4 separate regions of the Homo sapiens genome follow, and all the other regions are linked to region 1. The links come from fine-mapping of genetic effects on gene expression. A gene starts in region 1. Each other region holds a variant in brackets. All regions are shown on one strand. Distances are from middle to middle. Region 1 holds the start of TOM1 (target of myb1 membrane trafficking protein). Region 2 overlaps HMGXB4 (HMG-box containing 4). Region 3 overlaps MCM5 (minichromosome maintenance complex component 5). Region 4 overlaps TOM1 (target of myb1 membrane trafficking protein).

Region 1 (5,147 bases):
ATGATATTAATTTTACTAAAACACTTAAAAAGTAAATTGAAACACTTTTTACTAAATCAGTTTGCTCCTTATTAGCACACTTTTTAAAGACAGTTTTAATCAGTTTTGTACTAACTTTAATGTTTGCCATTTACATCCCTATCTACTATGTTGATAAAATCCATATACTGGCCAGGTGCAGTGGCTCGTGTCTGTAATCCCAGCACTTTGGGAGACTAAGTCAGGAGGATCATTTGTGGCCAGGTGTTTGAGACCAGCCTGGAGAATATAGCAAAACCCCATCTCTACAAAAACTAAAAGATATTAGCCAGGTATGGTGGCATGCATCTGCAGTCCCACCTACTCAAGAGGCTGAAGTGGGAAGACACTTGAGCCCAGGAGATCAGGGCTACGGTGAGCTACAGTTGTACCACTGTACGCCAGCCTGGGTGACAGAGACTCTGTCTTTAAAAATAAATAAATAAATAAATCCATATACTTCCATTTCTGTTTCAATAGCTATATAGTAATCAGTTTGCATGGAGTTGTTTTTCTTTTTTTTTTTGAGACGGAGTCTCGCTCTGTCTCCCAGGCTGGAGTGCAGTGGTGCAATCTCTGCTCACTGCAAGCTCCGCCTACCAGGTTCACGCCATTCTCCTGCCTCAGCCTCCCGAGTAGCTGGGACTACAGGCGCCCACCACGGCGCCCACCACCACGCCCAGCTAATTTTTTCTATTTTTTTAGTAGAGATGGGGTTTCACCGTGTTAGCCAGGATGGTCTTGATCTCCTGACTTCGTGATCTGCCTGCCTGGGTCTCCCAAAGTGCTGTGATTACAGGTGTGAGCCACCGTGCCCAGCCTGCATGGAGTTTATGATTCCACTTCCTGTTTGGGGGCATATGAGTTGTCTCTGTTTTTGTTTTTTTTTGTTTTTTTTTTTTTTTTTTTTTACCATGAATAAAGTTTACAAGAACTTGTTAAAAGCTTAAAGGAAGGGCCAGAGATGGTGGCTCATGCCTGTAACCCAGGGCTTTGGGAGGCTGAGGTGGGAGGATCACTTGAGCTCAGAAGTTCAAGGACCAGCCTGGGCAACATAGTGAGACTTTGCCTCTAAAAATAAATAAATAAAGGTTAATGGAAGAATCCAAAAGAAGTTCATGCTAAACATAACTCCATATGACCAAGCAATAAGGTTAAGTGAAGAAAGACATGGAAAGTGCCTTGACCTGAAGGTCATCTTAAATGGCCTTCTCCCCGCTTATACTCCAAATACCATTACTGAAACGTAGATCTATTTAAGCTTTCATGTGCTAGTTACTGGGTTAGACAATAGTGGGGAGCAAAACAGAAATAGTAGCCCAGCCCCCAGGGACATCCAGACTCGTGGGGGCAAAGGCATTTGTGAACAGGTCTCATGAGTGTTGTGGAAACACTTCAAAGCAGTTTTTATATTGTACAGTAAAGACATCGGACCCCATGGCTGCTCAAACAAGTGAATCTACAGAGGTGATTAAGTTCTAATTTAGGTTTGTTTTTTTTTTTAAGACACAGCCTTACTCTGTCACCCAGGCTGGAGTGCAGTGGCACGATCTCAGCTCACTGCAATCTCTGCCCCCCTGGGTCCAAGCAATTCTCATGCCTCAGCCTCCCAAGTAGCTGGGACTACAGGCGTGTACCACCACACCTGGCTAATTTTTGTATTTTTAGTAGAGACGGCATTTTACCATGTTGGCTAGGCTTGTTTTGAATGCCTGACCTCAGGTGATCCACCTGCCTCAGCCTCCCAAAATGTTGGGATTACAGGCGTGAGCCACCACACCTTGCTTAATTTAGGTTTTCTGTCATCCAAAATTTGTGCAGTCAATTTACTAGCCTTTCAGATTTAAAAACCACAAACATCACAATAAGTACTTAAGCACCCACAGTAGCCAGACTACTAAGGCCATGGTTATTGTATTTTTGGAGTACATGCCAGAAGAAAAGGTCATAACCCATAGATAGGTATCTAGTGTGTAGGTGTCAGCAGACACACCACACACAGCCAGGAAGGCTGAAGAGATTAGAATCACAACGCTGGGAAAGGCCTTTGAGATTCTTAGCTTGGGGTCCACGGTTGTACTTCAGGGACCCCAGAAACTCCCTGAGGTTATAAGCAAAATTGTATCGCTGCCTTTTTTCTTCAGAAAGGCTCATGGCTTTTGTCAAATTCTCAAAGGAGACTGTGACCTAAATAAAATATTTTTTAAAAATGGTTACGAGTCCTTGATCTAATTCCAGTATCTAGAGAAAATGGGAGCTATGTTTGGCTCACACAGTAAATTTATGGCAGAGACGGGTATTAAAGCCCCACTCGTGACTACATCTGTGCTTTTTGCCATCCTGGGCGCTAGAGGGAATTGCGCTGCAATTCATTAAATTGCCTCTCAGTCTCAACAGATGACAAACCCCTTGCCCTTGCCTCTGATTTAAGGTAAGATAATTTGGGCTGCGAGCAGGGTGCATCTTGGAGCGGGGAGACCTTGACATCAAACAGGAAGAGTCTTACCGGGACAAGGAGACAACAGCCCAGAGAGGCTGTCACCCAGGGTAGGTGTGCAGTCACAGTGAGGTCCCAAGGACTAAGGGCTATGACCCTAAGAGTCTCGGCTTCTGTGTAACTCACCCAAGTCACTTCCCTGGTCTACGACCCAGTTTCCCAAATGTGTAAAGGGTCCTTTAGACCTCGCCCTAAAAGGTCAGGGGCGTGGCTTAAAGAGGACCGCGCTTCCCGGGCCCCGACCCCAGACCCTACATCGTGTGTGACGCCCGCCGCCGCCGAGCAAGCCGCAGTGAGGTCATCGCCCTCCGCCTCGGGGGCGGGACCCTGGCGTCTCAGGGCGGGGCTTGTGGTCGAGCTTCGCGGTGCCACCGCCCCGCCCACGCCTCCTCGCCGGCCTCCGAGTGCGTCACGTGACGGGTCGGTGGCGCTGGCGGTTGCTGTCAGCTGATTCCCGGGGTTGGTGGCAGCGGCGGTAGCAGCAATGGACTTTCTCCTGGGGAACCCGTTCAGCTCTCCAGTGGGACAGCGCATCGGTGAGTCCCTGGAGCCCCCCACAGCTCCGCCCCGGTGCTCCGCACCCAGCTTCGGTCCCCTGGGAAGCCTCCGGGTGCCTAGTCACGGAGGCAGGGAGGGCAAGGAGGCTGGCGTGTAGCTCTCCGACCTGGCTCCGCCCAGCTTTCCTCCCACTCTTGATTGACAAGAACTTGGGCCATTAGGAAGCCTTGGCTTGTGATAGATGTATATGACAGCCAGTAGGTAAGGAGAGAGGGTGGGTCCGGATGCCCACGGCGCAGCCAATGTGCGTCTGCTGGGGTCCCCAATCGAGGGAGAAAGTTTTCGTGGTTAAAGGGACTGCGTGGTTGGCAGTGGCTGGGCCACTCTGCTGGGTCCCGCCGCCTGGGCTCTGGCCAGCTCCTTCCTGGCTCACCGGGCCCTCCGGACACAGACACCTGAGAAGGGCTAGAAGTCCCTTCTCCCAGGACCGCGAAGCCCCGGGCTTGGCGTCTTGGGGCCAACTGGCCAGAGGGGCCCAGCGCCGGACAGCCCGCGGCCAGGCCTCACAGACCCGGGTCTCAGGACGTGTCCGCCTGGGCTCTTTTCTCGACCCAACCTCAAATGGACCCGCACAGACTCTCAGAACCTGAGCAGACAGTGGTCGGACAAACCCTCCTGGTCAGCCCATCTCGGTGCTCCGTAGGTGGGGCAGCCGGGAACTCGGGCCAAGCCAAGCCCAGGGCACCTGGCGCCTGTCTGCTGGTCCGTGGTTCTCTGCACCCTGGTGACAGGATACTCACAGTTCTGTGACGCAGCCTCCCTGGGCCGAGGTTTCCTCACCTGTAGTTGGCGGGCAATAATGGTCCCCACCTCCGTGGGCTTGTTGTGAAGATTAAATTCCTTAATAAATGTGAAATACTTAGAACAATGCCTGGTACATGGCCAGTGCCATATAAAAAAAAACAGTTGTAATATTTATTATCACTGGGCTGGGCACGGTGGCTCCCGCCTGTAATCCCAGCACTTTGGGAGGCCAAGGCGGGCAGATCGCTTGAGCCCAGGAGTTCGAGACCAGCCTGGGCAACATGGCGAGACCCCGTCTCTACAAAAAAAAAAAAAAAAAAAAATACAGAAATTAGCCGGGCGTGGTGGTGCGTGCCTGTGCACCCAGCCACTCGGTAGGCAGAGCTGGGAGGATTTATTGGATCTGGGAGGTCAGGGCTGCAGTGAGCCCTGATGGCGCCACTGTACTCCAGCCTGGACGACGCAGGGAGAGCCCATCTCTTGAAACACATACACATACACACACACACACGCACACATATATATAAAAATATACACATACAAACATACATATACATACACATACATATATATTATATGTATTTACACACACACGTTGTTCCTGAGATCACCAAGTGAAGGTTAGGAATCCCTGGAAATCGCTTGGCAGTAGATCTCATAGGTGCTCATTCTTGGGCACCAACACCATGAGAACCGACATGCCTTCACCCAAACAGCCACACTTCTCCGGAGGATGGTTTGGGTGTTCCGCATTCTTGCATGAAGAAACCATCGCATTACCGTGAAATTACTCTTCATCTTTTTTGATGACGACTTTTCGTCTTAAGTCCAGACTGGGAAAACTTTAAGATGAGACATATTTTCCATTCTTAGTGTCTTGCGAAACCTCACGAAAGCTTGTCGACCCGGCTCTGTGTTGTAATCGCCACCGTGGCTGTCGGTGGCTCTTCCGAGGTTTTGTAATCAATGCTCTCCAAGGGGGAGGTGGCAGTCCAGGATTTACACACCAGGAAGCTCCTGAACCAGGGAGAGGAACTGCCCTCTCAAAGGACCCCTGCCCTCCCCGGACACACACCCACCCCACAGTGAGTCATGGTTTTTTGGAGCTGAAAAGAGAAGGCAGCTCTCCTCTCATCTATATTTCTCTGACTACAGAAACCACTGCTTTTATCACATGCCAAGTTTAAGACTTACTACTTAAAAATAAACAAGTAAATAAAAGACCTGGCTTCAAAGTCAGCCACATACTCTTAAGGCTTTCTGGAAAAGCTCACCTGGGTTCTGGATTTCAGCTAATCAAAGCAAACTTCTCTTCTTACCTTGAAGCGTT
Region 2 (5,147 bases), 29 kb before region 1:
CAAGCCTTTAGCTCCTCCATTACCATTGCCACTGTCTTAGGCCTCATTCCCTTCTACACTTACTGTAATAAGTAGCTTTTTTTTTTATTCTACCGTGCAGTTAATCTCACACATTGATGCTAGAGTAATCTTAATCTTAAGTAGCACCTTGATGACGGCAGTCCTGTGTTCTGCATCTTCAGTGGATTCTTACTGCTTTTTTGGTAGACTCTAAGCTCCAAGAGGACCAGGACCACGTCTGTCTTGCTATCCCTAGTGTATAACCTGCCATCTGGCCTATTGTAGACAGTCAGTAAATACTTGTCAAAGGAATAAATATCAGGTAAGTTGAAACCTTAGCCAAACATTCATTAAGTGTCTGGATTTAGCCTAATCCTCCCTTTTCAGCTTTACCTCTTATTAGTCTATTAAACATACACTGTATGGAAATCAGACTTGTTTCCCATACATTCTTACCTCTATTCCTTTGCTCATTTTTTACAGTGACCTTCCTCTTCTTACATATTGAAGCTCTGCCCTCTTTGCAAGACCTAATCAAATGCCACCTCTTCTAAGACATTCTGTACACCCCTCATTAGAATTAACGTCTAAACTCCCATATTACCTTGCTGTCTTACTGCACTTATTTTCTTCCTTATATTGGCATTATCTTTGTACATATTCTGTTTCCCTTATTAAAGACTATAAGGGAAGACTGATGCTTAGAATTCATAGAAGGAGCTGGGTGCAGTGGCTCACACCTGTAATCCCAGCAGTTTGGGAAGCAGAGGCAGGTAGATCACTTGAGGTCAGGAGTTGGAGACCAGCCTGGCCAACATGGTGAAACCCCCATTTCTACTAAAAATACAAAAATTATCTGGGTGTGGTGGCATGCGCCTGTAATCTCAGCTGCTCTGGAGGCAGAGGCAGGAGAATTGCTTGAACTTGGGAGGCAGAGGCTGCAGTGAGCCGAGATTGTGCCACTGTACTCCAGCCTGGGTGACAGTGTGAGACTGTCTCAAAACAAACAAACAAAATAGAATTCATAGAAGGGGCTACACCCAATTTCTTTAACTTAGCAGCACTGTCTGCTTGGGGCAGAATGTAAGCTCCTTTACCACCTTATAGTATCTTCAACTCTTCAATGTCCTTAATAAGCACTTTGTAAGTATATGTCGAATGAATATGTGGATGAAAACATAGTACTGAAAAGGTAGGTTGGGAGCAAATTGTAGAGAATCTTAAATGCCAAAGTAAAGGACTTGGCAGCAGGCAGTTTGGGGTTTATAAGCAAGGTTTATTTATGATCTAAATGATAAGAATAAAATGATAGAGTTGTACAAGGTGGATTAGAGTAGGGAGAGACGAATAACCAAGGGAGTTACTATAGTCCAGAAGGTTAGTAATGAAAATCTAAGAGACAGGAGGATCGCTTGAGTCCAAGAGTTCAAGGCTGGCCTGGGCAATCTAGCAAGATCCAGGTGTGGTGACGCATGACTGGAGTCCCAGCTACTCCTGAGGCTGAAGTGGGAGGATCAGTTGAACCCAGGAGTTCAAAGCTTCTGTGAGTTGTGATTGTGCCACTGCACTCTAACCTGGTTGACAGAGCAAGACCCTGTCTCTTTTAAAGAGAAGAAGAAAAAAAAAAGGCTTGAGAGAAATAAAATTGAAGAGGTTGATTCAAGAGAGGCTCTGAAGGAAAAATTGACAAGATCTACCTACAGCAGGGGTCCCCAGTCCCCAGACCACAGACCAGTAGCCGTCCGCGGCCTGTGGGGAACCAGCCACATAGCAGGAGTTGAGTGGCGGGCAAGCCATTGAAGCTTCATCTCTATTTACAGCCACTCCCTGTCGCTCACATTACTGCCTGAGCTCCACCTCCTGTCAGATTAGCAGCGGCATTAGATTCTCATAGGAGCACAAACCCCAGCAGGTTCCTTATGAGAATCTAATGCCCGATGATCTGTCACTGTCTCCCATCACCCCCAGATGGGACCATCTAGTTGGAAGAAAATAAGCTCAGGGCTCCCACTGATTCTACATGATGGTGAGTTGTATAATTATTTCATTATATGTTACAATGTAATACTAATAGAAATAAAAGGCATAATGTAATGAATGCACTTGAATTATCCCGAACTCTGCCCCTACCCCTGCCCCAGGTCCATGGAAAAATTGTTTTCCACGAAACCGGTACCCGGTGCCAAAAAGGTTGAGGACCGCTGACCTAGTGGGCTTGTATCTGGGAAGCCAGAAACATAAATGAGTCTAAGAAATATCTCTTCAGCTTTGAACCTAGATAACGTTGGAAAAATAGTAAGCTCTTCAAAGTTAAGGACTTATCTATAATTTGCCCATGTGGCTAGCAGTTGCTAGTGAAAAATGAATTTTAATTTATAGCAAAAACCTTATTAAGAGTTAATATCTTTGATTGTGGCTGTCCAAAAAATCTGAAGTAGTCATAATCTGAATTTAATCATTTATTTCTCCAACAAATATTTATAGTGTATATACTGTGGTTTTTAAACCTGATTTGTGCATAAAAAATTCCTATAAAGCTTTTTAAAAATATATTTTCCTGGGTTTTGTTTCACTGTAAAAAAGAACTGTATAAAAGTCAGGGACAGGCAGGCGCAATGGCATGCACCTGTAATCCCAGCTACTTGGGAGGCTGAGGTGGGATCACTCAAGCCCAAGAGTTTGAGACCAACCTAGGTGATACAGCAAGACTCTACCTCTTAATTTTTTTTTTTTTAATTAGCCAGGCATGGTGGCAAGCACCTGAGTTTCAGCTACTTAGGAGGGTGAGGCAGGAGTATTGCTTGAACCCAGGAGTTCACAACCAGCTGGGCAATATGACAAGACCCTGTCTCAAAAAAAATAAATAAAAAGTCAGGGACAAAGTCCACCCAGAGATAGAAAAGAATGATTTAGGAGTAGTGTTTCTTCAACCTACAGTGAGCAGAGACTGGAGAAACTACTGGTAGAAATGCCAAAGGCCTCTGTGCACCCCTTCTACCTTAGATTCTAGGACCAGGACTCTAATAAAAATAGAGAAGGTGAGAAGAATAGCTGGTTTGGGAGAAGAAGATAAGTTAATTGAGATCGGGAG[A/G]TTCAACATAGCTAAGTCGTTGAGAGCGTGGGCTGTGGAACCCACCTGAGTTCAATTCCTGGCTCTATTCACCCACTTACAAACAATGTGATGTTGGATAAGTTACAGAACAACTCCATCTCTAAGTTGAGGATAACAGACTTGCTTCCTAGGGTTGTGAGGATTAAATGAGGCAATACATGCGGAAGTGTTCAGGGCCTCGGTGTGCCAAGGCGCTCTGGGACGCCACATCAGACTCACCAGGACAACGCTTGATATTTTAAATACATTTTGAGACAAACAACAATACTTGACATCTCTCAGATACCTTACGAACTACTAGTTCAAAGTAATTCCCAGTTTCAACAATGTATGTTACATTCTTTTCAGTAGTGCCATATCTTTTCAAAGCCAAGTGTGTGTGCTCTAGAGGTAAAAAGCAACTACCACATTGAAAACCCACATAAGCACTGTGAACCAAGAACATTGGAGAACTTTGTCTTTGCACAATGCTCAGCACATTAGTGAGCATTCAATAAATATTATAATCATCTCAGTGGCAATGGAAGTTCAAGACCCAGAATTTGGCTGGAACTTGGGTGAGAAATTGGGTGTTCATGTGTGATAAATGAAATAGGTAAATGGATAAGAGGAAATTGAGCTCAGAGCAGAATTTTGTAGAACACTTATACAGGGGCATTTATATAAGAGAAGGAAGAGGGGGCGGCTATGTTGGAGGAGAAACACAGAAGGGAGGAGAAAAACAGTTTCAAGAGTAGAACAATCTCATGCTAGAGAGGCCAAGGAGTTCAAGTGCAGTAGGTAGGAATGGAGCTGGATCAGGGGTTGAGGAAAGAGTGAGCGGTGTGGAAGTGAACGCAGCAGCGGTGGGCTCTTACTTGAGAATTTTGACTGACACAAAGAAGGGAAATTACACTATTTCCTGGGTGAAAAGTAGCCTTTCAGTTGTTTTGGAGGTGGTTTTTGTTTGGTTGGTTGGTTGGTTTTACTGGTTTTGAGTCCTGCATTCTAAGGAAGAGTAGAGAAATTATATGGTAATATCTTGATGATTTCCCACTAAAGATCATCTCATTGCAGTGGAAGCTTTTCATTTATATAGGAGGAGCAGGATACAGTTACATTTTAAATATACCTTACTTTTGGTTTTACCCCAAATAAAAGCCCATTTTTTTGTCACTTAAAATAATAGCCAGGCGTGGTGGCTCACACCTGTAATCCAGCACTTTGGGAGGCCAAGGTGGGTGGATCATGAGGTCAGGAGTTCAAGACTAGCCTGACCAACTTGGTGAAACCCCATCTCTACTAAAAGTACAAAAATTAGCCAGGCGTGGTGGCGCGTGCCTGTAATCCCAGCTACTCAGGAGGCTGAGGCAGGAGAATCGCTTGAACCCGGGAGGCGGAGGTTGCAGTGAGCCAAGATCACGCCACTGCCCTCCAGCCTGGGCAACAGCGAGACTGTGTCTCAAGAAAATAAATAAATAATATCCCGTAATGTTGCCATTTCAGAGACATGCCTTTAGTTATCTGTGTGTTTCCAAAATATGCACATTTTCTCTAAACCTAAGGCAGGGCCAGGTAGCCTAATGCCTGGCACACCCAGACATTGTTGATCTAATAAACAAAAGTCTGAAACATAACTAGACTTGTGATGCTGTTACATTAGTTCTCTCTCTGGCAAACCTGAGGCTAAGTAACAGCAACAATAAATGGTAGAAATTAGTCACTACCATCTATTGAGTGCCAGGCTCTCCTAGGCATTTTCCGAATGTTACCACTCTTGATTAATAATTATCATTAGCCCCACTGACGGAGGAAGAAGCTATAATCTTTCCACTATGCCACATGCCTTTCCACAACTTTAAGACATGGTTACTCCGTGCCATGATAGATCTTTGACTCAAATTCAGCAGACTTGGATTCTTACTCTGGTCTGCCACTTACTAGGTCTGTTCTCCTGAGATTGCTTTCTCACTTCTGCTCATTTGTAAATTGGGGTTAGATTAAATTAGGTGGTGCATGTAACATGCTTAGCACAGGGCATGGCTTAGTAAATGTC
Region 3 (5,147 bases), 110 kb after region 1:
GACCAGCCTGGCCAACATAGTGAAACCCCGTCTCTACTAAAAATACAAAAAGTTAGCTGGACATGGTGGCAGTTACCTGTAATCCCAGCTACTTGGGAGGCTGAGGCAGGAGAATCGCTTGAACCCGGGAGGCGGAGGTTGCAGTAAGCCGAGATCCTGCCATTGCACTCCAGCCTTGGCGACACAGCAAGACTCTGTCTCAAAAAAAAAAAAAGAAAAAAGAAAAAATATTACTGCCTTATTGTCCGGTGTGGGAATAGTCATTAAGATGGGGAAACTGAGGCTCAAAGAGAAGTGACCCAGACAGAAGACCACACAGCAGGTTTTGACAGAACTTGAACTAGAATGTGGGCCCCTGCCTCCCAGGTTTGTTCTGTGTTGTACTCTACAGGTCCAAGGATGTCGCCATCAGAGCTGGGGTCAGGTCTCTCTCCTGGCACCTGCCACTTTGTAGTGAAATGTGCTTAGTGTATCTCTTGCCCTGCCACCTCCCCCCCCAATTGTGCTGCGAGGTCTTTAAAAGCAGGAGCTGTGCCTGAGGCTCCTCTGAACCCCAGGGTCCAGATAGCCTGGCACTGGGTGGATGCTCTGGAAGCATTTTTTGAGCGGAACAGAAGAGCTGTGGCCCTCCCTGCAGCTCTGTGCCCACCTCCTCCAGGCTCCTGCCCAGGATATTTACTGGCATATCTCAGATGCGTCCTGGCTCCCCTTAACCAACAAGCTTCCCGATGGCTCTATTACAGTCGGACATGATGTCACACCTGGTGAAGATCCCTGGCATCATCATCGCGGCCTCTGCGGTCCGTGCCAAGGCCACCCGCATCTCTATCCAGTGCCGCAGCTGCCGCAACACCCTCACCAACATTGCCATGCGCCCTGGCCTCGAGGGCTATGCCCTGCCCAGGAAGTGCAACACGTGAGTCTGTGGCCCAGAGGGACTGTGGGAGGTGACCTGAGTGAAGATCAGAAAGGATGAGAACAAGTAGCAAGCACTGCCTGCAGCTGCTTCTAGAGATCCACTGGGATGGGCTGGGCAGGGGTGTGCCCTTAGGATTGGCACAGATCTGATGCCCTGTGGCTCTGAGACACCATGAACAGGGTCCCTCTACATTGGTGACTTCTGTCTCACCAGGATACCCAGACAGCGTTGTAGGGAACCCAGGGTTGGGAGGGAAAAGCAGTCCAGGGTAATGAGTCTACTTGGAATCTTCTGAAGCAAACTATGGTTTGCTCACTAGGCCAGATCTAGCCTGCTGACCCTATGGCCCAGGAACACGTTCGTTCATTTAAGTATTGCCCACAGCTGGTTTCGCACTACAAAGGCAGGGTATGTGGCCTCTTGGCTGGCAGAACCTGGAATGCACATCCTCCGGCCCTTTCTAGAAAATGTTTGCTGCCCCCAGTCTGAAGGAACCCCACCCTCTTCACTGGCTGCTCTTTCTTGGCTCCTTCGCTGGTGCCTCCTCAGCTTCCCATCCACCTGTGGCACAGCTGCCTCATTCCATGCTGTTGACATCTCTCACTTGGAGAGGCACGCTACCTCCTCCCTGATCCCCCGCGTCCACCCTCCACCCCCTCAGTCTGTTTTCCACCCAGCAGCCAGGTGTCCCTTGACACTCAGGTGGTCCAGTCATTTACTTCTTAGTCAAGTCCTGCACAGCCCACCACGATCTGCTCCTGGCTTCCCCAGGCCTCGCTGCCCCTCCTCTCTCCAGGCCCGGCCTCACTGCCTCCTTCCTGTTTCTGGAATACACTGACTACCCCCAGTCTCACTGCCTTTGACCTTGCTGTTTCCTCTACTGGGAGTGCTGTTCCTCAAGCTACCATAGTCTGTGTCCTCACTTCTTCAGGCTTCTCTTCACATGTCCCCTTACCAGGGGCATCTTGCCCAACCCTTCATCTTCAGTTTGGTGTGCACGTACCTCGTCTCTCCCACACCTGCCTACTTTTTTACTTTTCTTCACAGCATGTAGCTGTCACTCTTTAATATGATTGTTTGCTTGTATGTCTTTTCAGCCTCCCTTGATAGGAACTTAGGCTCCACAAGAGCAGGGACCTTTTTGTTCAGTGCTGTGCCCCCTGCACCTGGAATAGTGTCAGACACATAGTAGGTTTTGCTATGATGTTTACTTCTTTATGTTGCTATAATATCTATTGAATAATGACATAATTACCTAGGGATACGTAGAGGCTTAGACCCTCAGAATGGTCTAGAACTGCCTAGAATCCCACTGGAAAAGATCTTGGGATTTGAGTGGGGCTTTAGTAAGAGAATTGATGAACTAGCTCTTCACCCATGAGGACACCATGATCCTGCAAGAAGACCGAGTGTGACCTGTCTGCCTCCTCTCAGCAAGTTAATGGAAGGACCCAGCCTCAAGCAGTTCCCTTGACTCTTAATCCAGTGCTAGGTCCGTCAGTGTTGCCTTCCTTTCTTACCTCCAGGCAGCGTTGCCTGCCTGGCTTATCTCCAGCTTATTCTGGAGACCCCCATAAATTGCCGCTGGCAACGTCTCCTTGCTGGCTCCTGGGATGAATGAGCCCTGCCTTTGGATTCTCCAGGTAGCTTTGGTGACTCTTTTCCCTTACCTTGTACAGAGATCAGGCTGGGCGCCCCAAATGCCCATTGGACCCGTACTTCATCATGCCCGACAAATGCAAATGCGTGGACTTCCAGACCCTGAAGCTGCAGGAGCTGCCTGATGCAGTCCCCCACGGGGAGATGCCCAGACACATGCAGCTCTACTGCGACAGGTGAGGCAGACGGGCTGGGAGGTGGGCATCTACGACGGTGGATGTCCCAGCTGTGGCCCTAACCCGAGTGTTGGGAGTGGGTCATCTGGAGCAGGGTGAGTAGGGTGGAGAAGGTGGCCAGTTGCAGAGCACCTGCTCTGTGCCTAATGCTTCCATAAGTTCCTCTCATCTCGTCTTTCCATAATCTGCAGGGGC[A/G]TGTCAGCCCCATTTTGCAGATGAGGAAATGTAACTTGGAGAGATTAAATGACTTCCTGTGTGGAGGAGAGCCGGGCTTTCAGCCTATGTGCATTGCTTTCCAAAGTCTGTGTTCTTCTTAGGATAAGAGGCCCAGGATGCACAGCTAGATAACCAATAGCTGGCAAAGCCTCTTCCCAGCCTGACACCCCACCTCCTACCCCAGGCTTTCTTTTTTTTTTTGAGACGGAGTCTGGCTCTGTAGCCCAGGCTGGAGTGCAGTGGCGCGATCTCGGCTCACTGCAAGCTCCACCTCCTGGGTTAATGCCATTCTCCGGCCTCAGCCTCCCGAGTAGCTGGGACTACAGGCGCCCTCCACCATGCCCAGCTAATTTTTTGTATTTTTTAGTAGAGATGAGGTTTCACCTTGTTAGCCAGGATGGTCTCGATCTCCTGACCTCATGATCCGCCCGCCTTGGCCTCCCAGAGTGCGTGGATTACAGGCGTGAGCTACTGCGCCCAGCGTACCCCAGGCTTTCTGTTAAGATCCTGCTGAACAGCCACGGTGGCTCATGCCTGTAATCCCAGCACTTGGAGCGGCTGAGACAGGAGGATTGCTTGAGGCCAGGAGTTCAAGACCAGCCTGGGCAACATACTGAGACCCTGTATCTAAAAAAAAAAAATTTATTAGCTGGGTGTTGGGGCAGACACCTATAATCCCAGCTACTTGGGAGGCTGAGGTGGGAGAATCACTTGACCCCAGAAGGTTGAGGTTGCAGTGAGCTGTGATTACACCACTCCACTCTAGCCTGGGTGACAGAGCGAGACCCTGTCTCAAAAAGGAAAACAAAAAAGATTCTACTGAGGGGGAGAGGGTACTGAGCTTGGGCCCCTCATAGTAACCTGGGTGGAAGGTTTTGAGATCTTTGATTAGGGTTCTAACCTGGGCTTGCATATCCTGAAATTGCATGCAGATGTTCTGAGGAGAGCGGATCTGTAGCTTCTGTTAACTTCATTAGTGGCAACAGAGTATGTAGGGGTCAGGCTCTTGCTCCCTGGGCAAGTTATGTGACTTTGTCAAGCTTCAGTTTCCTCATCAGTAAAATGGGGATAAGGACAGTCCTTAATCTCTCAGAGGGCTGCTTGAAAATGCATGTGGTGTTTAGCACAATTCCTTCATGCAGATTACGTAATCAGGATGTATGATTTTCCAAGCAGTTCATGAATCCTGAAAACTTACGAAGTGGGTATGGGAAGAGGGGAGTTGGAGGCTCATGGAGTGACGGTGATGGTCTTTTCTGGAGCTGTGATGCCTGATGGTATAAAGCACTTCTATGTCTGCTGCCTCACCTGACTCCACAACATGAGAGGCAGGCCACTTCGTCATCCCCCTAGGCTCAGAGGTGCAATGACTTCGTTGAGGTCACACAGCGACTAAGTGTCCCTCCACACCACCCTGTCTCTGACTGGGGGACTTGGAGACTTCCCTGTTTCAACATCTCATTTTGAAAACAGGAAATGAAAACCCAGAGGCAAAATGAGCTCACAGAGCCATGAAGAGGCAAAAAGGGCGAGTGGCCCCTCAAGGAGGCTGGGGGGCGTGAAGAGGAAGTCTTGCCCTGAGAGGCTAAAGGGCACCACACAGTGAGCTGACAGCAGACACGTGGAGATGGGGCTTTTGGAGGGCTCTGTGGGCTGGCACTAAGCCTCCTAAACCAGCGTACAAATGAGTTAGCGAGTTCAGCGAGAGTCAGGCCACCACCTGCCTTTCTGTTTGGCTGTCACTGTGGGCAACACCATCCTCCAAGCAGCTGAGCATGGGCTGAGTGACGTGGGGAGAGAGGCCGTTCTCTGGGCTCCGTGGGGCTGGAGCCAGCTCAGCATGTGGTGCCTGTGGCAAAAATGCTGCAGTGGACCCTGCGTGTCCTGGGCATGGGTGGAATCAGAGACTTGCTGTCCAAGTCAGAATCTCAGCTTTTCTCCTTTCTCCTCTACCCTCCTCTCAGGTACCTGTGTGACAAGGTCGTCCCTGGGAACAGGGTTACCATCATGGGCATCTACTCCATCAAGAAGTTTGGCCTGACTACCAGCAGGGGCCGTGACAGGGTGGGCGTGGGCATCCGAAGCTCCTACATCCGTGTCCTGGGCATCCAGGTGGACACAGATGGCTCTGGTGAGTTGGCTTTGGGGTCCTGGCTTAGCCCTGCTAAAAGGCTGTG
Region 4 (5,147 bases), 29 kb after region 1:
TGCAAGAAGGTGCTTGCTAAACAAAACTAATCTTTGTTTAATTCGAGAGTCCCCTTTTGTCTCTTGGGACATGTTAAGACATCAGGTGTGCAGTGATGTTACTCCCAGACTCCTCTGTAATTAAGTCCCATCTGATTTGGATACATGGGGTTTGTGATCAGTAGTTTTTCCACTCACTCATACCAAGAGTGTTCATTAAGTAAGCCAAATAGATCAAACATTTTGCAGGTTTTGGAAGGTGTCAGTGAACCATAGTGGATATACTACTAGTCTCTACACTCCATTTCTTCATCTATAAAAGCAGGGATATTGATGTCTACCATGGTAAAAAATTAAGTTAGCAATATATGTTCAATGCTTGGCACTTATTAGGTAGTCTATAAATGGTAGCTGCTGTCACAATCATGAATGTATATAGTGACACTCTGAAATCAACTATAACTCAGCCACATGATTTAGAATGTACCAGCATTTCTCAAAACATAAAAAGGTTCTTCAGTCAAATAAATCTTAGAAGCTTTCAGACTGATCTTTTCCCAGGCATTCCCAGTGTGCATGAGGGCATTAAACACCCTACAAGGTCCCACAGCATAAGATCCTTATACCAATGGCCTTTCACAAGCTAACCTCTTTGAGGAGACTGCAGCTTTATTGAAAATGTTTCCCCAAGCCCAACTCCTTGGAACCCTTTGACCATTGAAAACCTGCCCACATCCCTTGGAACAAGTGCTAAATCTGAGTTTCATATTCAAGGTGGGGTACAGGGCAAGGACTATCCTTAGATGAGCCTGGGACACCAAAATAGACCAGAAACAGGACAAAATCCCAGTCCACTAGGAGGAGAAAGAGGGCAGAAGCCCAGTCCACTAGGAGGAGAGAGAGGGTGGAATCCCAGTCCTCTAGGAGGAGAGAGAGAGGACGGAATCCCAGTCCTCTAGGAGGAGAGAGGGCGGGATCCCAGTCCTCTAGGAGGAGAGAGACGGCGGGATCCCAGTCCTCTAGGAGGAGAGAGGGTGGGATCCCAGTCCTCTAGGAGGAGAGAGAGGGGGGGATCCCAGTCTTCTAGGAGAGAGGGCGGAATCCCAGTCCTCTAGGAGGAGAGAGAGAGGGCAGAATCCCAGTCCTCTAGTGGGAGAGAGAGAGAGGGCCTGCAGCGTCCCTCCCCGCCTTGTGGGGAGCCACCCTCCAGGGCCTTGTTAGCTGCTGTGTTAGACCCAGGAGATGCTGGAGTCTTCCAGCCACACGTGGTGGCTCATTCCGGTGTGGAGATGGTAACGGTTGGTAGCGCCTCTGTGAGGGGTCTGTAGAAGGGGTGGGGCAGGCCTCTAGTGCAGAGCTGTCACTTTGGGAGCCAGGAGGGAGGCTGCCTAGAGAGGCTGCTGGGAGGTCGGCTCCCTGGTGCTGCACCCAGGGTTGGTGGTACTGGGTTCTGTCGCTGTGAGTAACATGGGCCCCAGAACCCTGGCTTCTCTCACCACGATCAACTGTGTGTTTCAGATTGGGAAGCTGCGCAGTGAGCTGGAGATGGTGAGTGGGAACGTGAGGGTGATGTCGGAGATGCTGACGGAGCTGGTGCCCACCCAGGCCGAGCCCGCAGACCTGGAGCTGCTGCAGGTGAGCAGGTGGCACCACCCCCTGGGGCTCAGATGACTCCTGCCCAGCTGCCCACATGCATTCTTTCCCAATCCTCATGACAGTCTTCATGGCTTACTCCATACTCCTTGGTCACAGTTGGGGACATGTTACCACCAGGGACTTTGGACGCCATCAGATTGGAATCAGATCGCAGCTCTACCACTTTCTGGTTTGAACAAAGTAGCCCCCCTGGCCTCAGTTTCCTCATCTGTAAGATTGCTCTAACAATAGCCTTCATGGCACAAGTTTGATGTGAGTTAAATAAGGTATTGCATGAAAAACACGCAGGCTTGTGCCTGGTACAGAGTAAAGCACCCAGTAAGGGGTCCTGAGAAAAAGCTGGAAGGTGAGATTTACACCATTCAGAATCCGAGACTCAGCAGGCAGGTGTGAGAGGGTGGTGCCAGCCTTGAGATGCGCCAGCCACTGATCTTGGGGAGCCAAGGCAGGTGGAGCTAGTGGTTCCTGCTCCCGGGTGTCACATGGTATTCCCACGGCCCCAGCCCAGATTGGGGGTCACTGGAGCAGAAGGGACACTGAATTTGGCAAAAAGCACCCTCCCCATGGAGGCCAGTCATAGAGGCACCAAGAGAGCTAGGAATCCCCAAGGCCCAGGAGTCACCAGAATCCATGAGGAGACAGAGCGCTTCGTGTAACTGTTCGAGTTCCTACTGCTCGTCCACCAGGCCTCAGGCTCCTTGAGGGCAGCGCTGTGTCTTCCTCGCCACCGTGTCTGTGTGCCTGACCGAGCTGACTCTGCAGGGGTCCTCACTTGGTGGTGCAGGGTGGGGAGAAAAGGAGTAGCCTCAGAGTCCAGTGAATACACAAACTTGAAACCCAGTAAGGGCTCCGAAAGAGAGAAGACTGCGCAGGCAGCCTCGCAC[G/A]CCCCAAGCCAAGGCCATGAGATGTGAGCAGTCTGGGGACTCAGAAGGCTGAGCAAGGTGGATGCAGGGACAGCTCCCATGCACTGGGCACTTCCCGTGTCCCGGGCTATATGTGGACACTTGGTTCACATCGCTCACGTAATCCTGACCACCCCCATTTTCCAGGTCAGGAAATAGGCATAGGGAGATCAGATAACACGTCCAGGGTTATATGGCTGGTAAGTAGCAGAGCTGCGATTTGAACCCGGGGGCCTGGCTCCAAGTGCTGCTCTTCTGCTCTTGAGAGGGGCCAGCAGGGAAGCAGAAGCAAAGCCACCGTGTGCTTGGTCATAAGAGCAGGAGGGGAGCCCACAGGATGTTGAAAGGCACCCGCCCTGTCCCCGTGCTAAGGGCGATGAGGAAATCCCGGAGGCCTGACCTTGGAGGGGGCAGGGGACAGGGTCCACATGACAGCCAAAATAAACACTGGGCAGTGCCGAGCCTCAGCGTTGCCTCCAGGAGAAAGGCGTGCTGGCGTGAGGCCACAGTCGGCAATGCCGGGCAGCTCCCTGGACCTCAGGACCCAGGCACCTGCCGTGACCCAGGAACCTTCACCTGGTGGCAGGTACCTGAAGAAATAATTGACCAATCTTAAAAATGAAAACCCATATGGCTATGGTTTTTTATTTTTTTATTTTTTTTGAGACGGAGTCTTGCTCTGTCACCCAGGCTGGAGTGCAGTGGCGCGATCTCGGCTCACCGCAGCCTCTGCCTCTTGGGTTCAAGCTATTCTCCTGCCTCAGCCTTCCAAGCAGCTGGGATTATAGGCATACACCACCATGCCCGGCTAATTTTTGTATTATTAGTAGACACAGGGTTTCACCTTGTTGGCCAGGCTGGTCTTGAACTCCTGACCTCAGGTGATCCACCCGCCTCGGCCTCCCCAAGTGCTGGGATTATAGGCACGAGCCACCGGGTGTAGCCATTTTTTTTATTTTTCATAAGTTTAAATATGACACCTAGTGGTTAAAAGTCGGTGACGTGATAACTAAATGCAGTGTAGGATCCTAGAACAAACAAAGGACATTAGAGGAAAAACTAGTGAAACCTGAATAAAGTCCGCAGTTTAGTTAATAGTATTTTACCAGTTTTAATGTTTAATGGTAGTTTACCAGTTTTGACAAATGCCAGACTAAGGGGAAGCCAGGGTCAAGGGTATATGGGAACTTGTGGTACTATCTTTGCATCTCTTCTGTAAATCTAAAATTATTCCAAAGCTAAAAGTTTGTTTAAAAAGACAAAAAATCAGGCAGTGAGAAAAGTGAGGCAAAAACTCGAAATCGAGGTTTGTGGCTAATGGTTGCAGTCATCTAGTTCATTCTGTATGCTTTGGTTGCAAAAATCACAGCATACCCCCAGAAGTTGTGGTTTGTTCAGCCAGCCCCCTTTGCAGACTCAGTTTTTTTTTGACTAAGCAAAGATGGTGGCACAACCTTTATTCTGGAATCTGCACGAAGCCAAGTTAAACCGGCAGCACAGTTGGACATGTTGATGGTTTCCTGTGGATTAAATTTTAGCATCTAACACTTGGAAGTGAAGTTCAAGTTCATGTTTGTAGAACCCAAAAAGCTGTTCCGTGGAACCTTGAAGTCCAGTTTGGGCACCTCACCCTCCTCCAAGGCTTGTGCAGGGGCTGGAGGCCCGTGCATTAGAGATGGCCTCACTTGGCCAGGCGCGGTGGCTCACGCCTGTAATCCCAGCACTTTGGGAGGCCGAGGCAGGCAGATCGTGAGGTCAGGAGATCGAGACCACCCTGGCTAATATGGCGAAACCCCGTCTCTACTAAAACTACAAAAAAAAAAATTAGCCAGGCGTGGTGGCAGACGCCTGTAGTCCCAGCTACTTGGGAGGCTGAGGCAGGAGAATGGCATGAACCCAGGACACAGCTTGCAGTGAGCCAAGATCGCACCACTGCACTCCAGCCTGGGCGACAGAGCTCCGTCTCACAAAAAAAAAAAGAGACGGCCTCACTCTGAGTCATGTGACTGTGGTTGCCTCACTTCCTTTCCTGGCAGGAGCTCAACCGCACGTGCCGAGCCATGCAGCAGCGGGTCCTGGAGCTCATCCCTCAGATCGCCAATGAGCAGCTGACAGAGGAGCTGCTCATCGTCAATGACAATCTCAACAATGTGTTCCTGCGCCATGAACGGTAGCCCCAGCACCTCCCCTGGCCTCTGGCCTACTGCCCCAACCCTCTCCCTTCCCTTCCTCCCTGTTCTCCTGGTCTCATGCCATCTGAGCCTTCTCTCGTCCTCCTCTCAAACACAAGGCAGGCTCCTAAGGGCCTGTGCCCTCAGCTGTCTTCTTCCAGGATGTTTATGAGGGCCCCTCCTTCCAGCCGCCCTGTATCTCCTTTCCAGGGTTAGCGCTGCTGCCTGTGCCCAAGTCCAGCCCTGGGAGATGGTCACAGGTCACAGCTGAGAGCACGGCCCTGCAACCAGACTGGCCTGGTGTGTCCTCGCCCACTCCACCACTTCCTGGTTCTGGGGCCTTAGACAAGTGACTTCACTGCTGCAAGCTACACAAAACATTTCTGGCTAACTTAGGCAGAAAAAGAATTTGTTAGGATAATAATCTTTATTAAATGGG

What was found. PIP is the estimated chance that this variant, and not a neighbour inherited with it, causes the effect.
Region 2: its variant is the best candidate, but not a certain one, in a credible set for the expression of TOM1 in whole blood (INTERVAL, PIP 0.66).
Region 3: its variant is the best candidate, but not a certain one, in a credible set for the expression of TOM1 in whole blood (INTERVAL, PIP 0.53).
Region 4: its variant is the best candidate, but not a certain one, in a credible set for the expression of TOM1 in whole blood (INTERVAL, PIP 0.87).

Annotation. Positions count from the first base shown.
Region 1 is chr22:35,296,930-35,302,076 of GRCh38, forward strand. It overlaps TOM1 (target of myb1 membrane trafficking protein), which reads left to right and starts at 2,965. Exons shown (of 15, transcript NM_005488.3): 1 at 2,965-3,051. The coding sequence starts at 3,000. RefSeq lists enhancers at 2,540-3,062, 2,989-3,138, 3,063-3,585, 3,539-3,698, 4,109-4,630.
Region 2 is chr22:35,268,377-35,273,523 of GRCh38, forward strand. The region is part of intron 5 of HMGXB4 (HMG-box containing 4); the gene reads left to right. Among named protein-coding and RNA genes, the nearest start is that of HMGXB4, 13 kb to the left of the region's middle. The variant A/G (reference allele first, on the strand shown) is at 3,092.
Region 3 is chr22:35,405,810-35,410,956 of GRCh38, forward strand. MCM5 (minichromosome maintenance complex component 5) reads left to right here. Exons shown (of 17, transcript NM_006739.4): 5 at 744-916; 6 at 2,599-2,754; 7 at 4,935-5,101. Among named protein-coding and RNA genes, the nearest start is that of MCM5, 8.2 kb to the left of the region's middle. RefSeq lists enhancers at 4,250-4,309, 4,400-4,619, 4,700-4,839. The variant A/G (reference allele first, on the strand shown) is at 2,950.
Region 4 is chr22:35,325,774-35,330,920 of GRCh38, forward strand. It overlaps TOM1 (target of myb1 membrane trafficking protein), which reads left to right. Exons shown (of 15, transcript NM_005488.3): 7 at 1,498-1,614; 8 at 4,574-4,707. Among named protein-coding and RNA genes, the nearest start is that of MIR3909, 7.3 kb to the right of the region's middle. RefSeq lists enhancers at 2,803-3,097, 4,587-5,087. The variant G/A (reference allele first, on the strand shown) is at 2,520.